2 linked regions of the Homo sapiens genome follow. The main gene of each other region encodes a partner of the protein of the gene in region 2 in a complex. Each region holds a gene or a part of one and is shown on either strand. Other genes may lie near its edges.

Region 1 (7,541 bases), on a different chromosome or scaffold from region 2:
AAAAATAAATAGGCCGGGCGCGGTGGCTCACGCCTGTAATCCCAGCACTTAGAGAGGCCAAGGCGGGCGGATCACGAGGTCAGGAGACCGAGACCATCCTGGCTAACACGGTGAAACCCCGTCTCTACTAAAAATACAAAAAATTAGCCGGGTGTGGTGGCGGGCGCCTGTAGTCCCAGCTACTCGGGAGGCTGAGGCAGGAGAATGGTGTGAACCCGGGAGGCGGAGCTTGCAGTGAGCCAAGATCGTGCCACTGCACTCCAGCCTGGGCGACAGAGCGAGACTCCGTCTTAAAAAAAAAAAAAAAAATGAAGTTAGTCCATTTAAATAACTTCTGTTTTTGGAAGGCTACATGTCTGGGCATCTGGAAAGGGGTCTAATAATCCAAGTGGGGAGCTATAATGCTACGTATCAATAGGTCATTAACAACAAAGGCAGTGTGTGATAAACACTAAATAAGGGGGAACAGACATTTTGTCTCCACGTTCCAACGGTCCCCCAAATTTGTACTTTGTAGGTGGTTCTCCTTAGTGCCAGACCCTAACTCCAGGTGTCTCCTGTAAGCTGCTCTTGGATGACTCACAGGCACCTCAAATCTCACCCGTTATCAACTAAACTAATTTTCTTTCCCTCCTAGGTCTACACTGCTAACCATCCACAGCTCAGTAAACGGCACCATCGTCCACCCAATGCTAAGCCTGGGAGGTACTCTTGCCTCATCCCCTGCCCTCACCCTCAACACCCAATCAATTACTAAATCATATTCAATTTTACCTCATAGACTGTCTCTCACATGCTTCACAGCCCCATCTAAGCCTAGATCAGCATCATCTCTTGCCTGGATTTATTCAACAGTCGCCCACTGGTCTCTATGTTTCTGACCTTGCTTCCCTCCAACTCATTTTCCACTCTGCAGACGGTCACCTTCCAGAAACACATATTTGATTTGATCAGCCCTGTCCTTAAAATTCTCCAGTAGCTTCCCATTCTTCCCACTGCTGTTAGGATGGTTTTAAAATCTTTTGTAGGCTTGGCTCCCACCTACCTGACCATCATTCATTACCGATTAACCCAGTCATTCAGCAAACACCAAGCACCTACTATATGTGAGGCACTGTTCGGGGTGCTGGCAATATATCCACGAACAACCGAAACCAAAAGACTTTGTTCTATACAGCTTACATTCTAATTGGAGGAGATAGTCTACGACCATACCACCCTGAACGCACCCAATCCTGTCTAAATGGAAGAGACAGACATAAATAAACATATAAATATATTGGGTTAAAAGATAAGTACTATGGGCTGGGTGCAGTGGCTCATGCCTGTAATCCCAGCACTTCGGGAGGCCGAGGCGGGTGGATCACCTGAGGTCAGGAGTTTGAGACCAGGCTGGCCAACATAGCGAAATCCCCAACTCTACTAAAAATACAAAAAAAAAAAAAATTAGCTGGGTGTGGTGGCGGGCGCCTGTAATCCCAGCTACTTGGGAGGCTGAGGCAGGAGAATCGCTTGAACCCGGGAGGTGGAGGTTGCAGTGAGCCGAGATCGTGGTATTGCACTCAGCCTGGGTGACGGAGCGAGACTCTGTCTCAAAAAAAAAAAAAAGATAAGTACTATGAAAAAAAGATAGGGCAGAAATGCTGGGAGTATGGAGATGGAGTAGAGTGCTGCAATCTTAAATGGAGTGGATAGGCCTCTCTGAGAAAGTAACCCTACAAGTGTATGAGAACAAACTATCCCAGAGAGAAGGAACAACCAGGCCAAACCCCCTAATTTCCCACGTTTAAGGCACAATGAAGCCTAAATAGGTGGAGTGGAATGGGCAAAGAGGAAAGCAGTAGAAGAGGTCAGACTGGCAAAGGAGGCAGATCATATAGTGCATTGTAGACCATTGTAATCCCCCACCTGTGAGTACTTTGTAGAGAGTATGAGACACGGCAGGGTGCAGTAGCTCACACCTGTAATCCCAGCACTTTGGGAGGCCAAGGCAGGGAGGGTCGTTTGAGCCCAGGAGTTTGAGACCAAACTGGGCACCACTGTGAGACCTCATCTCTACAAATAATTAAATAATTAGCGGCCAGGTGCGGTGGCTCACGCCTGTAATCCCAGCATTTTGGGAGGCAGAGGTGGACGATGACCTGAAGTCAGGAGTTCAAGACCAGTCTGGCCAACATGGTGAAACCCCATCTCTACTGAAAATACAAAAATTAACTGGATGTGATGGCTCACGCCTGTAATCTCAGCTACTCAGAAGGCTGAGGCAGAAGAATTGCTTGGACCTAGGTGGCAGAGGTTGCAGTGAGCCAAGATTGCGCCACTGCACTACAGCCTGGGCGACAGGCTCAAAAAAAAAAAAAAAGAATTAGTTGGACATGGTGGCACACACCTGTGGTCCCAGCTACGTGGGAGGCTGAGGTGGAAAGACGACTGGAGCCCAGGAGATTGAGGCTGCAGTTAGCTATGATTGTGCCACCGCACTCTATCCTGGGTGACAGAGAGAGAGAGAGACTCTGTCTCAAAAAAAAAAGAAAAAAAGAAAAAACGGAGAATATGAGATACTAACGAGGAGGCTACTGTGATAATCCAGGTGAGAGACTGTGGTGGCTACGACAGGATGGTGTTCCAAAGCGGTGAAAAGTGGTCTCATTTTGGATACACTTTGAAGGCAAAGTCATCAGAATTTCCTTACAGATCAGATGTGGGGAGGGAGAGACAGAGAGAGGAGATGGTGGGGGCAGGGAGAGAGAGGAGTCTAAAGTTTATCTCGAGCAAATGAAAGAATATGCTACTAACTGAGACAGGGAAGGCAATGGTGAGAGAAGCAGGTTTGGAGGGAAGGTCAGGATTTCTGTTTTGTACATGTTAAATTTGAGCTGTCTGTTAGATTTCAAATTGGAGATGCCAAATAGGCAGTTGAATATAAGAATCTGGATTTCATGGAAGAGATCAGGGCTAGACTATAAAGTTAGGAGTAGTCACTCAAGGATGGTATTTAAACCATGAAACTTGCCAGCACCAGAGAATATTTGAAGAGGTCAGAGGACTGAGGAGAAGAGGTTGCAATAAGAGTCAGCCAAGGATACTGAGAAGTGAGGTGGCAGTAAAACAGGAGTGTTGATGTCTTAGAACCCAAGTAAGGATACTGTGGCCAGAAGGCCACTATTCAATTGTGTCAAATATTGCTTTAGATGAGATCTGAGAAACGGATGAAGCACCTCAGAGGTCAACACTCCCTCCCTAGTGAGAAAACATCAGACGTCTTTCAATTCATCTCTCTCGCTCTTTGGCTGCTAAACAATGTGTTTTCTGCTCATAACACTTCCCATTCGTTTTTCAGTTCTCAGCTTAAAGGTCCTGCTGCAATCGGAGAAGCTTCTCAAGACCAATGCTATTGTTACCAGGGAAACGATACTTTATCATGGAAATATATTATTCTAAGAGTCTACTTAATTGCCTCTCTGCTGGGCTTGACTGTAAGGTCCTTAAGTTAGACGTGCCTGTGTTGTTTACTTCTGTACCCAAACATTCGATAGAATTCCGAGCATAGCGCAAAGCTCGTAGTGGGTATCCCATAAATATTTACAAAACCAATGGATACATGCTAGGAGCACTTAGTGGCGCGATCGATTACTGTTGGCCTAACTTCGGGGGTGTCTAGAAGGGAGTGCCTAAAACTAGGAGTGGACGCGGAGGGCTCTAGACAGGGTTCAGTCTCCTTTGCAAGTGTAATACGGACCCCTTTGTTGACTCGAAGCAATTCCCCTGCCAGACACTTTTTAGCTGCCCACCCCGCCCCACTACTGGCCACTGTCTTCCTCGGACCTCATCCCAGACACTCACCCAGCCGCGTGGTGCGTTCCCGCGGCGCCGCGGGCTTGTCCCCAGTCCCATGCTCGGCCTCGAGTTCCTCCTGTTGCTGCCGTGCTTGCTGCAAAATCCGTCGGCTCAGCCGGGGCCCCACATACTCTTCCTCCGCTTCTCCTGTCCCGCGACCCCGCCGCTTCTCCCGGACCCCCGCCCGCACCGCATTCCCAGCCAGGATCTGATCGGCCAGGGGCGCATGTTTTTCCTGACCCCCCACCCCACGGGCCGCCTTGAATTTGGGCATTTTTCTCGAAAAAGTTGCCGGGAAGGATCGCACGTGGGGACTGAAGAAAGGCCAGGATGCGCTTGCGCGGTGGACTCCCAGCGCCCAAGAGGCCGCCCGGCGATCACAGCGCCCCCTAGCATTCGGAGGCCAGAAGCGCCATCAGCGCCGCCCCTCCCACTAAAAGAGCTCCCGGGTTCCGGAGCTGGACTCCCGAATATATTCACTGCCTTTAACGTTAGCTTCTCTCAATAGTGCAGTCTTTGAGTGTCGCTCTCCTAGCTTCATGGATGTAGGCCTAGAGTGCTCAGCCAAACGGGAATGTCTGGATTTAGAAACCTCGGGGCGGGAATCCGCAGATGATGTCAGTGGAGGCGTCACCGAGGGGTGCCGAGACACGCCCCATTCCTTGGGGAAGGCGTGGACCCGGCGCTCTGTTTTTACGTATTTCCGGAGTCCCTTCTGAGACAGAAGGTTGTGTTGGGGAACTGAAGGAGTTTCTGTGGGCGGACAGGGAACCCTGCGTTTCTACTGTGTGATTCTGCCACCTTCCTGGCCCGACGCCATGGGAGTGACTTGGTAGGACTGCAGGGGGTTTTGTGGGGCGGGGCTTGGAGTTGTGAAAGGCCGGAAAGAGGACCTTGACCATGGTCCGCCGTCCTCTGGGAGCTGAGGGAGATGTCCTCGGGTTGTGTAGATGAGAGGATGCCGTCCGGGCTGCGGGTTCCCCGGGCTTGTTTCCTCAGAGATGCGCCCCTTCCTCTTGGAAGGCGGGAAAGCAAAGGTTTTTTTTTTGTTTTGTTTTGTTTTTTTTAAGACGGGGTCTCGCTCTGTCGCCAGACTGGAGTGCAGTGGAGCGATCTTGGCTCACTGCAACACTCCGCCTCTTGGGTTCAAGCGATTCTCCTGTAGTCCCGAGTAGCTGGGACTACAGGCGCCCGCCACCACGCCCGGTTACTTTTTGTATTTTTAGTAGAAATGGGGTTTCACCATATTGGCCACGCTGGTGTCGACAAAGCAAACTTTTTATCCCAGGAACCTATCAATGGTTGTATACCTCATTCTCTTCTGGATACATCTTCCTTCCCGTGAGGCCATAGTACTGCCTGCAGTGGGACCTCAGGGTTGGAAATAGGGTCTTTGGACTATGACCCACCTGCAGACAGGGTTGGAGGGAGTGGGCCATAAGCAATCAGGAGATAGTATTTTTTAAGATTTTCGCCTGCTCTTCCCTCAGCCATCAAATACAGTTAGACCCGCTTGTGTCTGTTTCTAATTTGCTCATTTTAAGATCTTGGGTCTAGAGGAAAAAAGGGTATTGATAATAAGGAGATCATGGTTCCAGGCACTTTATCTCTTTAGGACCCGTTTCCCACTATGTTTAATTCCATGGTTGGTCTAGTTTCAATGGAGTTTTTATCTTTCATATGTTTTAAGTCTCAGTTGAAAGAAGATGAGGTGGCAGGGAAAGGTATGGGTCCAGTGCTCGTGGAGGCGTTAGTTGTAAGGTGCCAGGTCCCAGAACATTTTTTTCTTATCTCAGTAGATGTGAGCATTTTTCCCGTGGGAGAAATCCGGAGGCCAGGATATTTGAAGCCAGTGGATATAGGCTTCTCATACAAAAGCATGTGTAGGGGAAATACTTTTCCTCCTGGTAGCCCAGGTTCTTGCAGGTTTCTCAGTGATTGCACTCTTGCTTCCTACGATTGACACGATCCTCCTGTGTTCCTTAATGGAAGCAAGATATGTGAGGAATGGAAATGGAAAGGATGCAGCGTAGAACCCTGGAACCCTTGCTCTTTCTTTTTTTTAAAGAAATAGAAATGGGGTCTTGCTGTTTTGTACATGCAGGTCTTGAATTCCTGAACTCAAGCGAGCCTCCTGCTTTGGTCTCCCAAAGTATTGGCATTATAGACATGAGCCACCGTGCCCAGCCACCCCTGCTCTTTAAATGGAGAAGGCAGCTCCAGGGAAAGGGCTCTCTGTTGGCCCCCTTATCAACGTTTTCAGAATCCTAGGACTTCTGTCACTTGTAGCGTCAGTTTAGGGATTCTTTTGTATTTCAAAATAAGGCACATTAGCAACATCGTTTATCAGTGTTTTTTTCTGATAGAGTAGTGACAATTTTTAGCAACAGAAGGACTCTACCTTAATAGATTCATTTAGTTGATCATAAAGCAATGTCATCTATGACTGTTTTCTTGATTTCTATATAGCTAAGTACTGCTTGTACTATTGTTTATTAATTTTTTAATCGATTTTCCTTAATGTTTTAACAGGCACTACATCCTTATACAGGCAGTCTAGTTAGTGGTTAAGAGCATGGACATCAAGCCAGGTTGCTGGGCTTTGAGTCTTGAGTGTACCACCCATTAACTGTGTGACCTAGTGCAAGTTATTTAACCTCTTTGTGCTGTACTTAAGTTTCCTCTTTTTTTTTTTTTTTTTTTTTTTTGAGGCAGAGTCTCACTCTGTTGCCCAGGCTGGAGTGCAGTGGCGTGATCTCGGCTCACTGCAAGCTCCGCCTCCCGGGTTCATGCCATTCTCCTGCCTCAGCCTCCCGAGTAGCTGGGACTACAGGCGCCCACCACCATGCCTGGCTAATTTTTTTGTATTTTTTTTTTTTTTTTGAGACGGAGTCTCGCTCTGTCGCCCAGGCCGGACTGCGGACTGCAGTGGCGCAATCTCGGCTCACTGCAAGCTCCGCTTCCCGGGTTCACGCCATTCTCCTGCCTCAGCCTCCCGAGTAGCTGGGACTACAGGCGCCCGCCACCGCGCCCGGCTAATTTTTTGTATTTTTAGTAGAGACGGGGTTTCACCTTGTTAGCCAGGATGGTCTCGATCTCCTGACCTCATGATCCACCCGCCTCGGCCTCCCAAAGTGCTGGGATTACAGGCGTGAGCCACCGCGCCCGGCCATTTTTTTGTATTTTTGGTAGAGACGGGGTTTCACCGTGTTAGCCAGGATGGTCTTGATCTCCTGACCTCGTGATCTGCCCGCCTTGGCCTCCCAAAGTGCTGGGATTACAGGCGTGAGCCACCGTGCCTGGCCAAGTTTCGTCTTTTTTTTTTTCTTTTTGAGATGGAGTTTCGCTCTTGTTGTCCAGGCTGGAGGGCAGTGGTGCGATCTTGGCTCACTGCAACCTCCGCCTCCTGGTTTCAAGTGATTCTCCTGCCTCAGCCTCCCATGTAGCTGGGATTACAGGCGCACACCACCATGCCTGGCTAAGTTTTGTATTTTTGGTAGAGACAGGGTTTCACCATGTTGGCTAGGCTGGTCTCGAACTCCTGACCTCAAGTGATCCGCCCACCTCGGCCTCCCAAAGTGCTGGGATTACAGGCGTGAGCCACCATGCCCGGCAGTTTCCTCATTTGTAACAAGTTGATAAATAACACACCTTCATAGGACTATCGTGAGGATTTGGAGAGTTAATTCATCTAAAGGCCTTAG
Region 2 (7,024 bases):
TCACTCTTGTCGCCTGGGCTGGAGTACAATGGCAGGATCTCGGGCTCACTGCAATATCCACCTCATGGGGTCAAGCAATTCTCCTGCCTTAGCCTCCCGAGTAGCTGGGATTATAGGCATGCGCCACCATGCCCAGCTAATTTTTGTATTTTTAGTAGAGATGGGGTTTCACTAGGTTGGTCAGGCTGGTCTCAAACTCCTGGGTGGCTCATGCCTGGAATCCCAGCACTTTGTGGGGGGCCAAGGTGGGCGGATCAACTGCTCTGTATTTCATTTGATTCTCTCAATACCCTGTAAAGTAAATCTATTATTGACCCTATTTTAAGAAATCAAGGCACAGAAAGGTTAACTAACTTGGCCCAAGGTAGCAGGTAGTATATAGTGCTAGAGTCATGGTAGTATATAGTGCTAGAGTCATGTTTCAAACCCAGGCAGTCTGAGTCCACAGCCTATGATCTTAACTACTCTATATGGCTTAAAATAATCTTTCCTTTTTTTTGAATACCTATGATATTTATTTGTGTCTTTCCCTTTTTAAATTTGGTCCCTGAGAATGAATAATTGGATAAATGCTGATACTGTCATATACATGAACTTAATCACTGGTCCATGTGTTGTCCTCTTACATTTCAAAAATTTTCTTTAATAATAAAATGAACAACTGTAATCTCACTGCCCAAGAACTAGAACATTACCAAAAACGATCTTATTAAATGTTTCTCCCTATCCCTATCTCTTGGTCATTTTTGGACACATGTGAAATTTCAAGAATTAACCAATATTCTCAATTTTATGTGCATGTAAATAATACATTTAGTTGTGCTTGTTTCAAAACTTTATTAACGGTAATACATTAAAGAGGTATTTTTAAAGGGTATCTGACTATATGTAATCTTCTGGGACTTGTTCCCTCTTCCTCTCCTCAATAGTATCACTAAGATTCATCTATTTGTTATACATAACTGTAATTCATTTTCAGAAGCCATATAACATTCCATCTGTACTATCATGATTACTCAACCCTGCAAACATGGCCATTTTTTTCTTTTTGAGAAAAATCTCACTCTGTCAAATAGGCTGGAGTGCAGTGGTACAATCATGGTTCACCGAATCCTCCACCTCCTAGGTTCAAGCTATACTCCCACCTCAGCCTCCCAAGTAGCTGAGACTACAGGTGCATGCTACCACACCCAGCTAATTTTTGTATTTTTAGTAGAGATGGGTTTTGCCATGTTCACCAGGCTGGTCTTGAACTCCTGGGCTCAAATGATCTGCCTGCCTCAGCCTCCCAAATGCTGGGATTACAGCCATAAGCCATATCTGTCAATTAAAAAAAATTCCTTTCTATAGGATCACTCCCAATGCACCTTTAATAAAATAATAATAAACCTCTCTTTTAACCCTATTATGCAATTTCTCTGCTATTTACAGCAAAAGTCCCCAGAAAATTGTCTAAGTTTGCTTCTCATCCCGTTCTTTTGTGAACCCACTCCAATCAGATTGACTGAAACTGCCTATCAAGGTGACCACCAACTTCTATTTGGTCACATCCAATAGCCTGTCTCAGTTTTCACCTTAATGTATCGAAGTATTTGATAGAGATGATCACTCTCTTCTAAATATTCCCGGGCCAGGCACGGTGGCTCACACCTGTAATCCCAGCACTTTGGGAGGCCGAGGCAGGTGGATTGCCTGAGCTCAGGAGTTCGAGACCAGCCTGGGCAACACAGTGAAACCTCGTCTCTACTAAAATACAAAAAATTAGCCGGGTGTGGTGGCGTGCACCTGTAGTCCCAGCCACTTGGGAGGCTGAGGCAGGAGAATTGCTTGAACCCGGGAGGTGGAGGTTGCAGTGGGCCGAGATCACGCCACTGCACTCCAGCCTGGTGACAGAGCGAGACTCTGTCTCAAAACAAAAACAAACAAACAAAAATTCCCTATACCTGATTTCTAGGATACCATGCTCCCTTGGTTTTCCTCCAACCTCCTTCTCAATTTCCTTTCCTGGTGCCTTTTCTCCCTCCCCACTTATAAATGTCAGCTCCATCCTTGTACTACTCTATCTACAATTACTCTACAGTTTATTTCATCCAGATCCACAGCTTTTCATAATAACTCACACACAAAATTTTTCTATCTCCAGACCCAATCATTCCTCTGAATTTAAAACATATTATCTCCAAATGTGTATCTGATTTACTCCCCCGTGTTTCCCTCCTCTGTAGTTAGTACTACCATTCACCCAGGTGCTCAAGCTATTATTGATGCCTCATCTTTCCTTACACGTCTTTTGGCAAACCCTGTAGGTTCTATTTCCCAAATAACCTAAAACCTATTACTTACATCTCGCTGGCCTCTTATCTTGTCTAAGCTACCATCATCTTTCACCTAAGCTACTGAAACTGCCTTCCAACTGATTTATCCTGCTTCTGTTCTCACTTTCACTACTTCCAAACCCCAACGCTATTTTCCACACAATAGCAACAGAGTGTCTTGCTCTGTTGCCCAGGCTGGAGTGCAGTGGCATTATCTCAGCTCAACACAACCTCCGCCCCCCAGGTTCAAGCAACTCCTCTGCCTTGGCCTCCTGAGCAGCTGGGACCACAGGCACGCCCCACCATGCTGGCTAATTTTTGTATTTTTCACCATATTGGGCAGGCTGGTCTCAAACTCCTGGCCTCATGATCTGCCCACCTCAGTCTCCCAAAGTGCTGGGATTAGACGCATGAGCCACCGCACCCAGCCATTTTTTTTTTCTTTTAGATGGGAGTTTCACTCCTGTTGCCCAGGCTGGAGTGCAGTAGTGCGATCTTGGCTCACTGCAACTTCCGCCTCCCAGGTTCAAGTAATTATCCTGCCTTAGCCTCCCGAGTAGCTGGGATTATAGGCGCCCACCACCAAGCCCAGCTAATTTTAAATTTTTAGTAAAGACGGGATTTCACTATGTTGGTCAGGCAGGTCTCGAACTCCTGACCTCAGGTGACCTGCCTACCTCAGCCTCCCAAAGTGCTGGGATTACAGGCATGAGCCACTGTGCCAGACTGAGAGATCTCTTAAAAAACAATCAGAATAAGGATCATGTTACTTTCCTTGTCAAAACTGTTCAATAGCTTCCCATCACATTTAGTATAAACCACAAAGGCCTTACATGGTCTATAAGACTCTAAATGATGCTGGTGAATGGCTACCTCCTAAATTTCATCTCCTTCCAGTCTCCCTATCACACAAAGCATTCCAGCAGCATCAGTCACCTTAATGTTCCTCAAACATGTAAAAGCAAAATACTCCCTCAGGGTCTTTGCACTGCCTGAAACACTCTTCCCTCATTTAACTACATAGCTCATATTCTATGTTATGTAGGAGTTTTCCCATATGCTATCTCCTCAGTAGTATCTTATCTGACCATACATCTAAAATAGTACATATGTGGTGTCTTGTTCTGTTTTACTCTGCTTTTCCTCCAAATTACTTCTTACTATCTATTATATGCTTTTTTGTTTATTTCCTATTTTCTCCACTAAATTATAGATTCAAAAAGGGCAAAGAATATGTGTGCTTTGTTCAACAGTGAATCTAGGCTAATACCTGGCACATACAAGGTGCCCAGTAAATACTTAATGAGTGAAAGAATGTTGAATAAAGCAGACCACTAGCAATGTTATGCTAATAAATATATGGAATGTGCCTTTCATATTCCTACATAAGTATATAATTACAGATTTATAATAACCATACTTTTATTGGTGAAATTAAACTAAACTGCTAAGAAATTCTCCCTTTAAAAACATCATCCATAAAGAGTTTTAAGTCCAACTTTAAATGTATTTGCCACATGGGAAACTGCCTTTATTACTTTTTCCTAAGAATGTAACTAAAGGGAAATAAGCAAACAAAAAAGTATTTTATTGGCATACTTTACCGTTTCTTTTGGACCAGGGGTGTAAGCATGAACTTTTCACAAGTGCTTCATCAACTTTTCCTCCTGACATGTTATCCATGAACTGACGCCCATGTTCTAATGCAAGGTAGCAGTCATTGCAACAGTCACGCTCTTCAACACGTACCCAATTGCTAATTACACCACTTTTAGGAAAAGGATCTTGGTCTGCTGCTCCAAAGGGTGAAAATAAATTAGTGCACTGATCTTGTAGCAATAATATCAAATCATCAGATAATTTTTCAGATTCCTTTAGTCCTCCATTAACATGTTCAGCAGAGGTAGCCCTGAGAGCTTCAAAACGTTTTTCTGCTTCTTTGCCACAGTCTGTATTGCGTCCTATGATATCTAGTTCATCTTCAAGAAATAATCCTGAATTGTTTCCAAATTTTCTGTTCATGACAGCACTGAAGCCACAGGTACACCTATATTGTGCTTCCTGCGTTGGATCTGGAATGTAAACTCCAACATCGGCACCCTTGATGTTCATGTTGCAAACACAGATGCAACAACTATCAAAGTTACAGTCTTTAAACAAATTCATAACTGATTCTGAAAGGATGAGGTTTACATAAAGACTGTGTGCTTCAGGGATGGAAGGGACAGTTGCAGGTTCAACAGAATTAAGGGGTCTGCATGTAGATGGGGTAGAAGCTGGTGAATACAAGTCTGAATTTTCATATTTGACTGAACCTTGAGCACTAGCAGGTCCACCAGCTCCACGAGGAGTCCGAGGAGTCCTTGGAGTCCTTGGAGTTGGAAACCGAGGGGTGGATGGAGAAGGAAGAATTCCTGCTCCGCTGTTACTAGGAGGTGCACTGCTAGGAGGCATCCCAAAAGAAGTATGAGTTTGAGGTGTATAAGCAGTGCCATATTCTTGATCCATATTACTTCCATCACTATCATCACCAGGGTAAAAGAAGATCAAATATATATATAAAGGAACATATTAGTAATGTGAAATACAACTAAAAACGTCCCAAATGTTTTTCAATTACATAGAAAATTATGAAAGGACAAGTATTGCAAGAATTACAAGCACAGTCAATTCTTATTTCTGGTTAACATATCTACTCTAAGTGATTGTTGTTGACTAAGGATCAATTAACAAGTTCAAAAATCATTAATAAGCACTCTATACACTAATGCATACCTAGACATCCATATTTACTATCTATAAATTTTGTTTACTAGAAATACTTATATTTCCTTGATTCTAAGATGCTACTGACTATAAAAAAAGAAAAATGATTTTAGAGATGCTCATGTGTAAAAAGGGAAAAATGGTAATTTTAAAATGCTACCACTTATAAGACATCTCAGATTCAGATTTCTTTTAGCCTTGAGTTGAAACTGACCAAGTCAGAGATGTTAAAATGTGAAAAGTGTGGAAAAGATGGCAAATGTAAAAATGGGAGCAATTTAAAATTGCAGCCCAAAAGAAAAGGTGCTTCGGAATACAAATCAAGCATAATAGTCTTAAGTTTCCTAATAGTTTATCCATACCCAATTAACCTTTTTTTTTTTTTTTTTGAGACAAAGTCTCACTCTTGCCCAGGCTGGAGTGCACTGGTGCGATCTCGGCTCCCTGCAATGCCTGACTCCCAGGTTCAAGCCATTCTTGTGCCTCAGCCTCCCAAGTAGCTGGGACTACAAGCATGCGCCACCACGCTTGGCTAATTTTTGTATTTTTAGTAGAGACGAGGTTTCGTATGTTGGCCAGGCTGATCTCAAACTCCTGACCTCAAGGGATACGCCTGCCTTGGCCTCCCAAAGTATGGGAATTACAGGCGTGATTCACTGCTCCCAGCCAATCACTATAATTGATTAACCAGAAATAATTTTTAGAATTTTCAAAAACCAATTTTATTTTTCCAGCATACCAGGTAAATCTATGAAAAAAAAATTAAAGCTGTATAAGCAGTCACATACTATTGTAACAACATAAATCATACCCCTCTTTGATGAATGGCATTGAAGGCCCTGAAGAAAGCAATTCCAATTTTCCAACAGTCCAACTCTGACGGTAAATACACTCTTCTGGCAATTTGATAGGGGGCAGATATTGGCTTGGTAGAGTTTTTAGAGGTGCAAACATGGAACATCCCACTAGAATTTGACAATTTTCAGGCTTATAGACATAAGAAAAATCCTACAATATAAAGATGGTAGGTTTTCAGTATCTTATCTTCTAGGAGGAAAAAATAAATAAACAAACAGGCTCTGGACCTTTTTTCCTTTCTTTAAACAGAATAAAATCTAAATACAATTCTATTATTTTCTTAAATGCATTCTTAATAGTGACAACAATAATTCAGTCCTCAACTTAGCTACAAAACCGCAACCACTATAAAATAATTTTTGACTATAGCAACAAATTAATTCTATAAGAAAATATAGGAAGTGAATTATTTTTCTAGAAAAAACATACTTACTTTAATTTCAGAAGGTTTGGGGCTACAGAATCCCTCATCAACCTCAATTTTGAACTGCGCTCCTATACTAGAACTATTTCCTTCTAGAACAGTTCCTCCAGGTGTTGTATCCATACTACCATATTCTTTATTATTCATATTCATTGGGGAAAATCCCATAATATGTTGTTCCAATGATGGTGGTGTAGGATACATTTTATGAAGATCTGCAGTGCCTATATTTAATAAAAACATACATTTTAACATGACTAAAAATAGGCGAATCTGTGTTTAAACCAAAAGGAGTGGGGAGCTTTGTTGAGATTAAAAGTTCGCAAATTTATCTCGAGCACAGATGAGGGAAGCTTACTTATGCAAGATAACGGGTCCAGATTTCCTGTCTTTGATTCCTTGCAGCTGGCTTTATCATCTGATCCATTTGCTGATTTTTTAGATCCAGGCTATTTAAAAAAAGCACATATTTATCTAAAATTTTACATCCAATGTGATCTCAAAATAGTAATCATTCAGATATAACTTAACAGTAAAGCCCATTCATTAAAAGTAGTATTTTGAATCTGTGATACAGCCAAATACATACTAGTGTTGAAAGATATAAAATATTTCTTAATCACTGACTCCAGATTAATTTATTTGGTAAGCCTCCAAATTA

What was found. Proteins that work in one complex are often made in the same cells at the same time.
Region 1: MED13 (region 2) and MED20 share a complex: the UniProt entries of both Homo sapiens proteins name them as parts of the mediator complex.

The regions. Positions count from the first base shown.
Region 1 is NC_000006.12:41,918,133-41,925,673, reverse strand, and holds the start of MED20 (mediator of RNA polymerase II transcription subunit 20), read left to right. Parts: upstream 1-4,534; 5' UTR 4,535-4,655; coding exon 4,656-4,669; intron 4,670-4,730; exon of another isoform or gene 4,731-4,874; intron 4,875-7,541. Other genes in the region: BYSL (bystin), read right to left, coding at 3,844-4,111. UniProt on the Homo sapiens protein: Component of the Mediator complex, a coactivator involved in the regulated transcription of nearly all RNA polymerase II-dependent genes.
Region 2 is NC_000017.11:61,978,279-61,985,302, forward strand, and holds part of MED13 (mediator of RNA polymerase II transcription subunit 13), read right to left. Parts: intron 6,813-7,024; coding exon 6,722-6,812; intron 6,588-6,721; coding exon 6,373-6,587; intron 6,090-6,372; coding exon 5,893-6,089; intron 4,837-5,892; coding exon 3,920-4,836; intron 1-3,919. UniProt on the Homo sapiens protein: Component of the Mediator complex, a coactivator involved in the regulated transcription of nearly all RNA polymerase II-dependent genes.